Homo sapiens: one gene and its partner. The protein of the gene in region 2 interacts with the protein of the main gene of each other region in a pairwise test. Each region holds a gene or a part of one and is shown on either strand. Other genes may lie near its edges.

The links.
Region 1: the proteins of SERBP1 (region 2) and PRMT8 interact in a two-hybrid assay, tested with the Homo sapiens proteins (one large-scale study listed by BioGRID and IntAct).

Annotation. Positions count from the first base shown.
Region 1 is NC_000012.12:3,539,395-3,543,211, reverse strand, and holds part of PRMT8 (protein arginine N-methyltransferase 8), read right to left. Parts: intron 2,607-3,817; coding exon 2,421-2,606; intron 1-2,420. UniProt on the Homo sapiens protein: S-adenosyl-L-methionine-dependent and membrane-associated arginine methyltransferase that can both catalyze the formation of omega-N monomethylarginine (MMA) and asymmetrical dimethylarginine (aDMA) in proteins such as NIFK, myelin basic protein, histone H4, H2A and H2A/H2B dimer.
Region 2 is NC_000001.11:67,420,112-67,423,928, forward strand, and holds part of SERBP1 (SERPINE1 mRNA-binding protein 1), read right to left. Parts: intron 76-3,817; coding exon 1-75. UniProt on the Homo sapiens protein: Ribosome-binding protein that promotes ribosome hibernation, a process during which ribosomes are stabilized in an inactive state and preserved from proteasomal degradation.

The DNA of each region.
Region 1 (3,817 bases), on a different chromosome or scaffold from region 2:
AAGGACCTATGAGATGGTCTATAGCAGCAGCAGGAGGGATTTAAGCTAGATGTCCAGAAGTATTTCCCAATGGGAAGGCTGCTAAGCACTCTCCCAGGACAGGAATGTGATCTATGACTCACAGGTCTTATACTCTAAGTCCCCTGCTCAGCCCGCACTATGTTTATATATACGTATGCACAAGCTTGACTTTTCCATAAGTACACACAATTGAGGGAAACTGGTCTAGTATTTATTTGGTGAAACTTGATGTCCTCTCCCCTGGGTGCTGGGTCATGGTGCTGACCAGGCATCGCCTGAATGACTGGATTAGCAGCCATGTCAACAAGCCTTTGCTCTCCAGACAATGTGCCAAGCTGTAGGTAACAGGCTGGGGACACCAAGTCCCAAAGGAATTATAGAGATCGGTAATAGCCTAGTGGAGCACACTCTAAACGCCAAAGGTGTGGCTCAGCAGGAACCTAGCAACTCAGAGGGAGGTGTCCAAGAAGCCGATCACGGAGGCTCCGAGTGGGGAGGGGAGACTGCAGACCCAGCTTGAGGTGCACCTCATGGTTGTTTGGTTTCTAATGGGGGAGTTCTGGGCAGGCCCAAGAGGAGACATTTTGGGGTCCCTGGAACTGCTCTCTTTTCCCAAGAATCTGTCCTGAAATGGGTACCCAGAGCCACAGGCCTGTTAGAACTTGTCACATGGAGAACATGACTTTTAATTAGGGACAAGGTCTTGAGGAAGGGGCCTTCGCAGAGTCTCTTTTGCCCCCAAGAGCCTCTCACAGGCCAAGGATGGGGCTCCAGGAATCCCTAGCCCAGTGGAGAGCAGGGTCAAGGAAGGGGTAAGAGTTCATCCATCTGCCCTGAGATGGCATTTTATCTCCCAGAAGCTGCAGGCTCAGCTGTCCAGGCCCTCCTGGGCCAGGACCTTCTGGACCGAACACAGGCCCCAGTCCTCCTCCCCTGCAGGTCCAGGCTTAATGGTTTTACATGGTGAACAGTTCTCAGGGACCCAAACCTTGAGCCTCCCTGGATTAAATGAGGCTGAGCCCCTGAGTCTAGAAGTAACTGGGGGGCCTCCTTCCACCCTCTACCTCCATGTAGGGCTGCAGAAGAACCAGCAGGAACAAATATGGCAATTTAATTTTTACAGTTTCCAGATGGAAAGAAAGGAAACTTGTTTTAAGGGCTGTATGGCATGATGGTTAGGAACAAAAGGTGAAGGTTTGATTGCTAGCTGTGCCATCTACTAGCTTGTGGCCTTTCACACACGCACACACGCACACAAAAAAACCGTCAAGGATGAATGAGGGTTGATTTGATTCTTAAGGGCCTAAATCATCTGGAGAATGGGGACAAGCAATAACACCAACCTTGCAGGATTGACCTGAAGAATAAATGAACCAATAATATAAAATGCTTGGAACAACACCAGCACGTAGTAAGCACTAAAACGAAACAAACAAACAAAAGAGCTGGCTATTATTACTAAACACCCTTCCGGCAATGGCAGGGTCATCATTTCCACATAGGAAGAGTTTACAGCAGTGAGTACGTGGAAGGAAGATCTTCAAGACTTGTTTTGAAAACCGATTTGCACAGCAAGCAAACTTTTGTTCCTTTTTCAATTTTTTCTTATGCTGTAAGAGGATCACGGACATATTTTCTTCATAGAGTTTAAATGAAATGATACGTATAATGTGCTTAGAACTGTGCCTGTCACTTAGCAAGCACTCAGTAAATCCTACTTGTTTATTTGGGGTGGCTGGAGAGAGTGCTGGAGATTATAATGAAAGATATACAGTAGGGGCACCATTAGGCCCCCACTATGGCCAGGATGCCTCTTGTTAGGAGGTTCTGTTCTGTTCCATAGTCAACATTAGTCTTCCCTGCTATGGGGTAAACTGGCATTTAGACATAAGAATTTCCAGACAATCAATCAGGGTGTCAGACCTGGGCCAAGCTCCCAAGAAAGCTTCCTGCAGCTCTTCCCCCGGAGGTGCTCATTGGTCAAAAGAATGCACATCATGACCTCTGAAAGGTCCTTGCTGCCTCAGGACTCTGACTGCAGCATTTGAGCTCCTGGTCCAAAGACCAGCGCTATCCAGCCCACAATGGATGAGCTGGGTTTATGGCTGGGGAGAGACACGGGAGCTGGAATGTAAAACAAATGGACCGTAAGCACCTTGTGTGCTCTCTCTGGCTGTGGAGTATACAGACACACACTTTCACCTGCTCCCCTGCTCCAGGCCTGGCCTGGCCCCCTCCCAGAGGGGCCCCCCGGATTGGAGAAAGGGTCAGAGGACTCAGGAACACTGGGAGCACTCCCTTTACCATGGTAAGGAGTTGAACACACTATGCTGCCTCTGAAAACAACAGAACAGCAGAGTCAGCCTCGCCCCATTAGCCACCCACTCGGGACACTTTACCTCGTGGATCCCAAAGTGGGCATAGGAGTCGAAGTAATAATCTCTCGAGGTCATCTCCTCTGGGTTCAGCAGCTTGGACATCTTGCCCCGTCCTGGGCAGCTGGGTTGAGTGGACACATGATGGACGCATTGCACGGGCTTAGCAGGGACGACGGGCTGGGGGGGCTGGGAGGGGGGGCTGTTCACCTGAGGGGAAGAGAAGGGGGTCGGGTGTTAGGAGAGACAACGGGGTCCCGCCCTCGGAGGCTTGCGGTCCTCTTTCCTTCCCCCTCCCTGAGCCCGGCCTCAAGCAGCCACAGCAGCCCTTCCTGAAAGGGAGGTAGGTGAGCCCTTCCAGCTCCCAGCAGTTGGGCTCATGGCTGTGATCTGTCCAGAGATGGCAGTCCACCGAGGAGCCACACACACCTAGATTTCACCCACCTTCAGCTCTTATTAGCTAGGTGACCTGAGCAATGCAGGCCTCAGTTTCTGTATCTGTGAAATGGGGAAAATAGTATCTTCCTTTGAAGGCAAATAGGAAACATTCAATAAAGGGAAAGATGCATAGCACAGCATGGTGCCTGAGAGTGTAGATTCCGGAGCTGAATCCCAGCTCTGCCATTTCCCAGCTATACAACTTTGGGCAAACTTATGAACTTCTCAGTGCCTCAGTTTCCTTTTCTCTAAAATGGGAATAAAATGGTCCCTGCCTCCTAGAGTTGTCCTGAGGATTAGACAAGTTTGTATTTCAAAGTGCTTAGAAAAGGGCCAGGCATATAGTAAGAGTTTGTTAGAGGAAACGAAGTCCCACCTGCATCCTCAGGAACGTGAACCCATGGGCTTCTCTCCACTCAACAGGCAGCATCAAGCTAGAAGAGGATACGGCCCCCAAAATGCAGATGTCTTAGGTTCTGGTGTCTCCTACCTGTTGTCTTGCCCCCTAGTTTCTGATTCACAGTTCTACCCTGAATTCAGCACTGTGGATACCCACACTGATGGCCTCCACACAACCAATTATTGCTATTTCTGGGTGCCCCAATCCTGAGGCCCAGCCCAGCTCTACACCCACTGCTGCTGCCCATCACTGTCTGCTCCCTGGTCCTCCACAGGCTAGGCGGAGCAGGGAGAAGGAGATGGGGGTCCACAGAGCTTCTGGAGCCCAGAGACAGCAATTGGAGCCCAGAAGCTCAAACACTGCAACAGAAGCAGTTATGCCAGGAGACCTCCTCTGCCTGGAGTGCAGGAGACCCAGATGTACAAGGCACAGTAAAGGCCTCAAAGCAGGGCTGAACTAGAAAAATAAAAAAAGGAGTATTATCTAGTAGTCAGTCCTCTAGGGCTGGGAATCCAGGCTCCTGGGTCCTATCCTGGCTCTAGTAAAATTAAAAATAGATACTAGGAGGCAGATAGCGAACTGG
Region 2 (3,817 bases):
TTTTGAATAGCCTTCCACTCATCCAAAGTCATCTCTTTTGGACCCTCCTCTTTTACCTCTTCAACTTCATTCTCCCTGTGAAAAGGTTTTCAAGTTTTATACCTGGTAGAGAGCTGATATTACATAAAAGTATTTTAAATTTATGATTTTAATTGAGAAAATTAACCTTGTAATCTTTTAGAGAAAGATTATTCAAGGATGAGGGTACCCTAGTTTCCTATGTAACTAAGCAACTTGGTAGAGACCAGGAATTCAGTGTTTGCTAATTAGAGACAAGTAAGGAATATGGAATTCATACTTATGAACTCTTAAATGATCATTTATCAGTAATACAATCTAGAACTGGCTTTACGAATACTAAAATACACATTTCTTAAAAACACTACCTTGTTTAAAAACTACCCTCTTATGTAAAATCCTCAGCCTATCTTCTCCTAAACCACATTTTTAATTTCCATAATTCCCACAATATGTAACTCTTAATAACATACAAGAAGGTAATCCTCTAGGATGTCTGTCAGCAACCAGGGTTCAAATTTTGGAATATAAAAGAACTGTTCCTCTATGCTTTGTTTCAGCAACTAGCACTTAGAGCAAATCAAAACAATAGCCGTGTTTCTACAAATCCTAAAATCCTTATACTCCAATTTTCAAACCAACCTGTATATGGAAAGGAGGCCATGGATTCACTACTAATAGAACTATCCACAAACACACACTGGTTTCATTATTTAATACTAAACCATTTATTTCCAAATATAATTCTCAGGTCTTAACTATAGAATATGATCCTTTCCTCTTTTTACAGAAACAAAGCACAGGCCTAAGGATCCATTATTTTAGTATAATCTCAATCTGCAATTGTCACCAAACAAGTCATTTGCTATTTGGGGAGCCCTGCTTCTTTCCAAAGATAGCAGGTGATTCAGTTAGCCTTAGAGCTCAAATATCTCCCTGGATGCTGCCCTTTACTGTTTGACAAATGCTATCTTAAAAGTTCCTCCAGTTACATCTATGCTGCAAAAAAAAAACAAAAAACTTCCTAGAGCAAGTTTATATTGAATTGACAGGATCTTGGGATCTTGGGTACTGAGTCCACCTAGTCATTTTACAGATGAGAAATCTAAGAATATAAAAAAAGTCCTGCTTACCCATATGTTATGACACAGCCAGGAATAGAACTTAGCATACCTTTTATCATATCATGGAGGCATGACACCTACCTTTCAGGAATTACTGCAAGGATTAAATAAAAACCAAACAGAAGCTCTGGAAGCTATATATAAGTTAGTTCATCAAAGTCAGCCAATGTTGTGTTTCTTAAATTTATACTTCCATATGCTATGCCCAGATTCTCCCCTAGTCTGGAATAAGATTACAGACAGTTCTAATGTGATGGATAATTATTTTCTTTAAACCAAACACCCTCAGTTTCGCTCCTGGGCACTGAGCTAAGGATTTGCTACCAATAGCCTATCAATACATTAGTACCTTTTGGTAAACAGTTATAATCTTTGCATATCACTGAGTGATTGAACATGGGCTCTATTAAACAGTTGTGGTTGGACACGGTGGCTCACACCTGTAATCCCAGCATTTTGGGAGGCCAAGGCGGGAGGATCACTTGAGGCCAGGAGTTCAAGACCAGCCTGGCCAACATGGTGTAACCATGTCTCTACTGAAAATACAAAAATTAGCCAGGCATGGTGGAGCATGCCTGTAGTCCCAGTACTCGGGAGGCTGAGGCAGGAGAATCGCTTGAACTTCAGAATGGCCAAAATCGCGCCACTGCACTCTAGCATGGGAGACAGGAGACTGTGTCTCAAAGAAACAAAAAAAAGTTGTGTTGACCACTATGAGAAACTTAACGTTGCATAGGGTTCATTTGTTAAGGCACCAATCACAACTTCATTGTTTATCATGCAAAATTATGATTCCATTATAGTTTTGCATAAATTTTTATTACCAAGTTCAAAACATCACCCAATACCATGTATTTTTATCTACTCCCTCCAATAGTATATCATTTTTCCTTATCCCAACAAATCCACGGAATATGATATTCCCATCATTAACAGTGCTCACCATAAGAGCAAATTCTTTCTGAAGAAAAGAAAAAGTTTAAGGTGCGGCAGCTCACGCCTGTAATCCCAGCACTTTGGGAGGCCAAGGAGGGCAGATCACCTGAGGTCAGAGTTCGAGATCAGCCTGACCAACATGGAGAAACCCATCTCTACTAAAAATACAAAATTAGCCGGGCGTGGTGGCACATGCCTGTAATCCCAGCTACTCAGGAGCTGAGGCAGGAGAATTGCTTGAACCCTGGAGGCAGAGGTTGCAGTGAGCCGAGATCACGCCATTGCACTCCAGCACAGGCAACAAGAGCAAAACTCCATCTCAAAAAAAAAAAAGAAAAAAGAAAAAGTTTAGAAAACATCTGCCCCTCCCACCCCCCAACTAACTTGAATATGCTTCTGGTTAGGAATCACTGTCCTAAATAACCTGTAATCCAAGACTTTAAACCACAATACTGTAACAAATAACTGGCAAAGTAAACATGATTTTAGGTCAGGCGTGGTGGCTCATGCCCGTAATCCCAGCACTTTGGAAGGCCAAGGCGGATGCATCACCTGAGGTCAGGAGTTCGAGACCAGCCTGGCCAACATGGTGAAATCCTGTCTCTACTAAAAATACAAAAAATTAGCTGGGCGTGGTGATGCATGCCTGTAATCCCAGTTACTCGGGAGGGTGAGGCAGGAGAATCGTTTGAACCCAGGGGGCGGAGGTTGCAGTGAGCCAAGATAGCGCCACTGTTACTTCAGCCTGGGCAACAGAGCGAGAATGTCTCCAAACAAAACAAAACAAAACAAAACAAAACAAAACAAAACAAAACACCATGTAATTTTAAAAGCTAGTGAAGGGCTGGGTGTGGTGGCTCACACCTGTAATCCCAGCACTTTGGGAGGCCAAGGAGGGTGGATCACCGAGGTCAGGAGTTCGAGACCAGCCTGGCCAGCTGGTCTAAAAAATATAAAAAATTAGCCAGGCATGGTGGCGGGTGCCTGTAATCCCAGCTACTCCAGAGGCTGAGGCAGGAGAATCGCGTGAACCCGGGAGGCGGAGGTTGCAGTGAGCCGACAGTGCCACTACACTCCAGCCTAAGCAACAAGAGTGAACTCCATCTCACACACACAAAAAAAAAAGTTAGTGAAGGGCTGGGCAAGGTGGCTCACGCCTGTAATCCCAGCACTTTGGGAGGCCAAGGTGGGTGGCTTGCCTGAGCTCAGGAGTTGAAGACCAGCCTGGGCAAAATGGTGAAACCCTGTCTCTACTAAAAATACAAAAATTAGCCGGGCCTGGTGGCAGGCACCTATAGTCCCAGCTACTTAGGAGGCTGACGTGGAAGGATCATTTGAGCCCAGGAGGCGGAGGGTGCAGTGAGCCAAGATCACTCCACTGCACTCCAGCCTCGGCAACAGAATGAAATCTTGTCTCAAAAAAAGAAAAAAAAAAAAAAAGATAGTGAATAACATACTCTGATCTTTGCTCTCTTCATACATTTAAAAACAGGCCAGTAATGCTATGTTCCAAATTCTACATTGGAAATAACTTCAAGATAGAACTAATGTTAAAATGGCCACATTTTCTAGTTTTAACTATCTCAAAGTAAAATTTGTACAGTTGTATGACAATGGTAAAATGACTAATCAAACAGAAATAACCACATTAAAATATTCTATTTTTCAAAGCGTTAGAGTCAAATATATACACATAAACCACTCTTTTAAGGGCTGGGTGCAGTGGCTCATGCCTGTAA